Linked DNA regions of Homo sapiens. The protein of the gene in region 1 purifies or fractionates together with the protein of each later gene. This does not show direct contact. Each region holds a gene or a part of one and is shown on either strand. Other genes may lie near its edges.

Region 1 (3,439 bases):
GACTCACAAGAGGCATTGCCCTAGAGCCCCTGAGGGGCAGAACTGCAGGTGTGATCAAGGGAAAGTTATAACCTTTGGTGTGGGAGTAGAAAGAGGCCATGGGCCAAGAATGGGTTCTTGTGTTCATCATACTTGCCTCCTGGACTCCCCTAAAATACTCATAGATTGAGACCCACAGCATGCCTCAGCCTAGACTCTAAAGCCATTGCTATACAATACAATCACCACTAGCCACATTTAGCTATATAAATTTAAAGCTCGATTGAATCAAATTAAAACTTCGGGTCCGCATTCACACTGGGCACATTTCAAGTGCTCAGTAGCCACATGTGGCTAGTAGCTACCATATTGAACAACATAGACAGGAAATATTTCCATCATGGCAGAATGTTCTATTGGCAGTGCTGGTCTAGAAGAAAACAGGAATCAAGTAGATATAATGAATATTCTTTAATTCATGCCCTCTTGGACCAGCTATGGGTCAGCAGGCTAGGAGCTATTTGCAAGGTTTAGATTGTTACCACCTACTGGTCCATCCTGTTCTTCCTAACATGCACACCGGACACACACACACACACACACACACACACGCACACAACCTTTCTTCTTTATTTACTTGTTTCTAAATGTAACTAGGTGGAACTATCAGACAGAAACAGGGTGTTGCCAAGAATGATTTAATAGAACTGCAGGATCCCATGATGTTGAGACTCAAGGTTGGAAGAGAGGTGTCAGACTGCAGAAGTTGATTCCAGGCTTGTATTTGTGTCTGTTAATTTTGGTTTTACAGGTACATACTTGGGATCCACACAGCACTTAGCCTCAGTTTTGCATAATATATAGTATACTTCACTTTCTTTACATGTTGTTCTGCACCTGCCTGACTTGCCCCAACATTTCATGACTGAAAACAAAAGGGAAGAAGAGAATAGAGTCAGTTTTGAAAGAAAGCAGAAAGGTGTGAAAGGAAGAGGCTAAAGCCCAGTAGAGGAGTAGGAGGGAAATGAGGAGGTCTGTGGGGAAGAAGCTCTTACACAGGATCCCCTAAGTTTAAGGGAGATTATAGACCACTACGCTTTCTTCCTTCACTTGTGCCCCCTGTTAGAACCCCCAGAGTCCCCCCAACTCAGTGGCATAGGACCTACTGGATAGCTTCCCCTCCTTGGCCAGCTCCTTGGGAGGGGGAAGAGGACCCCTCTCCCAAGGGTTTTATCTCCCCCATATTATAATGTACCCAGGTGCCCAGTAGCAATTAGCCACCTTTTCTCATTGTTCTTTGGTACCCCCTCTGACCATATCAATGAAAGGTGACAGGAATATTAAATAAACTCATTTAACATCTGTAAGTCTTCTAGGGCACCTTTAAAACTCCCAAGAATATCATACTGCCTTCTTCACAACATCCTGGGACTTTTCTCTGGCCCCAACCAGTCAAGGGAATTAGGAACAGCTATTCCAGGGAACCTACAACCTAAGGTAACCCAGATGATTTGAGGTTGCATTAAAAAGTGGAATCAGAATCCTCAAACAATCAGAAATTTGAGAACCATTTTCCTAGAGGCAACAATGCATCAAAATTCAAATCCTTTCAATGAATGTTTTTGAAAAAGTCCCCATTTTCTCTATACTCCATACCCAAGTCTCTCTCTTTACACCCTATCCCATCCTCAGGTCATCACGTTCAGCTTTTCCAGAGCTAACCAGAGATAAGGTTGGAATGGTCAAGTACTGGGCACTGGGAAGACCATTTGGTACCAGAGAACTCAAACTTCCCCATAACTAGAGAGACTACCTAAAGGCCTCAATGAGCTCTACCAGGCCATTCTCCCAGCCCAACCTGTCAGAGTCCCCAGAGTTCTCTGAACATGCATCAGGTTTCCTGACTCCCATCCCCTTCTGGAGATCCTGTTTACCTGGGGTGACCTGGGCCAGGAGCAGAGTAACAGTCAAAAGCAGAAGAAGGAGCTTCATGAATGATGAATGATCAGGGAGGGATAGGAGGCTTCTCAACTGGTAAAACAGACAGAGGACTCCATTCTGGGCAGTCCAGACTGGTATTTATTGCCTTGAGGAGCATGGCAGAGCCAAGATCAGTGAACCAGAACGGGAACAGTCATTTGAGATCAGACAGGCAGGCAAGGAAGGTATCAACCACACTGCCTGAGGAGGCTGGGAGAGGGGGAAGGGACGTTAACAAAGAGAAGATACGGCCTTGCCTCTGAAGAATTTTATAATACAGCTGGAGAACCAAGAAGGGGAAAAATATTTTCATCTCTAATTTGTTTTTCATTAATGAGAAAAAAAGAGAGAGAAAAAGAGATAAGACAGAAAAGGAGTGATACTTCTCTGCGCCTTGGGTTCTTCCCAGCAACAAGGACATCTTAGGATGTCCCATATGTTGATGATTCATTATAATACCAAATGAAGGGCAGAGCAGGGGAAAATACCTTAATAGCTCCATGGCCATCACCACTGGAAACCAGAATGTCAGTATTCATGGAGTGGAATGAGCAGGAAAGCCATAGCCCTTACTTTTAACAGTACATATTTAATAGGAACAAGTAGCACCCTCATAGGTAGCAAAAGAAAAGCCATTTATTATTGTTGTGGTCTTTTTTTTATTATTACTTATTTTTTTGAGACAGTCTTGTTCTGTCACCCAGGCTGGAGTGCAGTGGCACAATCATAGCTCACTGGAACCTCGAATTCCTGGTCTCAAGCAATTCTCCTGCTTTGGCCTCCCAAAGTGCTAGGATTAAAGGCATGAGCCATCATGCCCAGCTTGGTCTTTCTTATAAGAAATGGTAGATTGCCCCAGCAACTTGGGAGGCCGAGGCAGGCGGATCACAAGTTCAGGAGATCGAGACCATCCTGGCTAACTCAGTGAAACCCCGTCTCTACAAAAAAAAATACAAAAAATTAGCCGGGCGTGGTGGCTGGCCACTGTAGTCCCAGCTATTCAGGAGGCTGAAGCAGGAGACTAGCTTGAATCCGGGAGGCGGAGGTTGCAGTGAGCCGAGATTGTGCCACTGCACTCCAGCCTGGGCAACAGAGCGAGACTCTGTCTCAAAAAAGAAAGAAAGAAATGGTAGATTGTAATCTTGGCCCTACTTCTTCATCCCTACTTGAATTCACACATTTGCCAAGGTCTCATCCTAGGAGAACTCTATTTCATTTTCCCTTCACTTTGGCCTTGGCATGTGATTTGCTTTGGCTAGTGATATGTGGGCAGAAGTGACGGTGTGCCGGTTGTAAGCCTAGGTTTTAAGAGATGATGAATATTTTCATTTGCCCTTCTGTGTCTCTGCCATCACTATGAGAAGAACATGCCCCAGTGGTCCAAGGAGGATGAGAGATACGTGGGGCACAGCTACTCCAGGCGACTCACAGATCTACAGTGAGAAACAGAGCTGCCCCAGGCATTCCAGCCTCAAGCAGG
Region 2 (3,500 bases), on another chromosome or scaffold:
TCTCTGCTCCCTTTGCTCTCTCTTCTTCTGGGGCTCCTACAATGTTTATGTTGGTTTGCTTGATGGTATCCCACAGACCCCTTAGGCTCTGATCACCTTTATTCAATCTTTTTATTTCTGCTCCTCAGACTCAATAATTTCCATTTTTGTATCTTCAAGTTCCCTGATTCTTTATTCTGCCTGCTGAAATCTGCCTTTGCATTTCTCTAGTGAATTTTAAATTTCAGTTATTGTACTTTTCAGCTCCAGAATTTCCCTTTGGTTTCTTTTTAAAATTTCTAGCTTTTTATTGATATTTTCATTTGTTCCTACATTTTCTTTCACTTTCTCCACATTTTCCCTTAGTTATTTGAGTATCTTTAAGATAGTTCTTTCAAAGCCTTTGTCTAGTAGATCTACCACCAAGTCTTTTTCAGTGACAGTTTCTGTTGTTTTTTTTTCCTTTGAAATAGGAAAGTTTCTTTGTATGCCTTGTGAAATCAAAATCTCTTTCTTCCCCAGAGTTTGCTGGTTTTTCTTGTTTTTATAATTTTGATTGTTGCTGTCTCTGTGCTAAGGATCAGCATAAAGTATAAACTTAAGGTCTTCTTAGGTCTTTTCTAAGCCCGTGACTTCCCCTGAGCATGTGCAATGACTTTTTTATTTTCTCCACATATATGGTTGCTTTTGAATGTGCTAGTCTTCAATGTCTACGTCTCAAAAGAGGAAAAAGAGAAAAATGAAGGGAGAAAAGGGTGCCAGCCCTTTAAATCTCCTGGAAGTCACTTCAACCAGACGGAGAAGGGCTTGCAATGACGGGGTTAGTTGCAACAACAAAGTCTGTGTCAATAGATTTTGAAAGATCTACATCATACAAGATATCTTTTCAGACCACAAAGGAGTAAAGTTAAAAATCAGCAACAAGGACATTTAAAAAATCACGAAATTAAACAACACCCTGTTAAATAACCAAGGATCAGAGAAGAAATCACAAGGGAAATTATAAAATACTTAGAGATGAGTGAAAATGAAAACACAAATTTAAAAACTTGTTCGACAGTGAAAGCAGTGCTAAGGGGGAAACTGATGGCTATACATGCTTATATTAAAAAAGACAGGTCTCAAATAGGAGCTTAACCTTACAATGTAAGGAACTAGAAAAAGAACAAGCTAGCAGAAAGAAGGAAAAAATAAAGATCAGAGCAAAGATAAACAAAATGGAGAACAGACAGATAATAGAGAAAATCAATGACAACAAAAGTTGGTTCTTTGAAAAGATAACAGAATTGACCAGCCTTAAGCTAGATTCTAGACTAAGAAAAAAAGAAGAAACTCAAATTACTAAAATTATAAGTGAAAGTGGCAACATTGCTACTAATTCTACAGAAATAAAAAAGATTATAAGAGTGTACTATAAGCAACTATATGTCAACAATTTGAATAACACAGATGGAATGGAAAAATTTCCAGACAGACAAAACCTATCAAGACAAAATCAAATCATGAAGAAATAGAAAATCTGAATAGACATAACTAGTAAGGAGATTGAATCAATACTCAAAAATCTCCTGACAAACAACCTCTGGACCTGATGGCTGCACTGGTGAATTCTACCAAACACATAAAGAACTAACACCAAACCCTCCCAAAATTTTCAAAAAACTTGAAGAGAAGGGAACACTATTTAACTCATTCTTATGAGGCCAGCATTACTCTGATACCAATACCAGACAAAGATATTGCAAGAAAAGAAAACTACAATCCAGTCTTCCTTATGAACATTGATGCAAAAATCCTAAACAAAATACTATTAATAGTAAACTAAATTTGGTATAATTTGATGCAATTAAATGGAATTTAATGAATTGACCAAGTAGGATTTATTTCTGGAGTGCAAGGATAGTTCAACATACAAAAAAAAAAAAATCAATCAATGTAATACACATTAACAGAATGAAGGAGGAAAAAAAACTCACACATGATCATTGCAGTTGATGCAGAGAAACCATATGACAAAATTCAATACCCTTTCATGATAAAAACACTCAACAAATTAGGAATAGAAGGAAACAACCTTAACATAATAAAAGCCATATTATACGAAAAAGCCACAGTGAACATCATACTCAGTGGTGAAAGACTGAAAGCTTTTCCTCTAAGGTCAGAAATAAAGGAAGGATGCCTGCTTTCACTACTTCTATTTAACACTGTACTGGAAGTTCTGGCCAGAGCAATTGGGCAAGAAAAAGAAATTAAAGGCATTCAAATTGGAAAGAAATAAGTAAATTATCTCTGATCACTGATGATATGATCTTGTATGTAGAAAACCCTAAAAATTCCACAAAAACTGTTACAACTAATAAACAAATTCAGCAAAATAGCAGAATACATAGTAAACACATAAAAATCACTTGTATTTCTATTCACTAACAATGAACAATCCAAAGGAAATTAAGAAAACAATTCTATTTACTATAGTATCAAAAATAATAAAATACTTAAAAATTGACTTAGGAGGTGAAAGACCTGTACAATGAGAACTACAAAACATTTCTGAAAGAAATTGAAGAGGACATTTAAAAAAAGACATTCATGTTCATAGATTGGAAGACTTACTATATTAAGATGTCAATACCACCCAAATTGATCTAGAGGTTTAATGTAATCCCTATAAAAATCCCAGTGATTGTTTTTTTTTTCAGAAATAGTGAATAAATCCTAAAATTTAGATGGAATCTCAAGGGACCTCGAATAGCCAAAAAAAAAAAAAAAAAAAAAAAAAAAATCGTGAAAGATAAGAACAAAGCTGGGGGACTCACATGTCCTAATTTCAAAACTTACTACAAAGCTGCAGTCATCAACAGTGTGGCACTGGCATAAAGACAGACATACAGACCAACAGAATAAAACAGAGAGTCCAGAAAGAAACCCTTGCATATATGACTTTCAATCAAGCCGTCAAGACCATTCGATAAAGACAGTCTTTTCAACAAACGGTGCAGAGACAACTAGATATCCACATGCAAAAGAATGAAGTTAGACCCTTACCTAATACCATATACAAAAATTAACTCAAAATGGATCTTTACGTTTTAAGACCTAAAACTTTAAAACCCTTAGAAGAAAACATAAGGTAACACCTTCGTGACATGGGACTGAGCAATGATTTCTTGGGTATGACAATAAGAAAAAATAGATAAATCAGATTACACCAAAATTTAAAAACATTTTTTGCATCTATCTAGTGAAAGGACATCATTAACAGAGTAAAAAGAACCCAGAGAATGAGAGAAAATATCTGTAAACTGTGTATCTAATAAGGGATTAATATCCAGAATATACAGAGAACTCCTAAAATTCAACAACAAAAAACAATCAACTTGATTCAAAAATAGGTCAAGGACTTAAACAGATATTTCTCCCAAGAGATATATAAATGGCCAACAAGCACATGAAAAGATGCTCAACGTCACTAATCATGAGGGAAATGCAAGTCAAAACCACAGTGAGATACCACCTCA

What was found. The genes of interacting proteins can lie anywhere in the genome.
Region 2: the proteins of DEFB121 (region 1) and COL6A2 purify together in Homo sapiens (affinity purification with mass spectrometry; 2 studies listed by BioGRID and IntAct, with this or other methods). This does not show direct contact.

The regions. Positions count from the first base shown.
Region 1 is NC_000020.11:31,404,182-31,407,620, forward strand, and holds DEFB121 (beta-defensin 121 isoform 1 precursor), read right to left. Parts: upstream 2,035-3,439; 5' UTR 1,972-2,034; coding exon 1,914-1,971; intron 905-1,913; coding exon 732-904; 3' UTR 664-731; downstream 1-663. UniProt on the Homo sapiens protein: Has antibacterial activity.
Region 2 is NC_000021.9:46,101,112-46,104,611, reverse strand, and holds part of COL6A2 (collagen alpha-2(VI) chain isoform 2C2 precursor), read right to left. Parts: intron 1-3,500. UniProt on the Homo sapiens protein: Collagen VI acts as a cell-binding protein.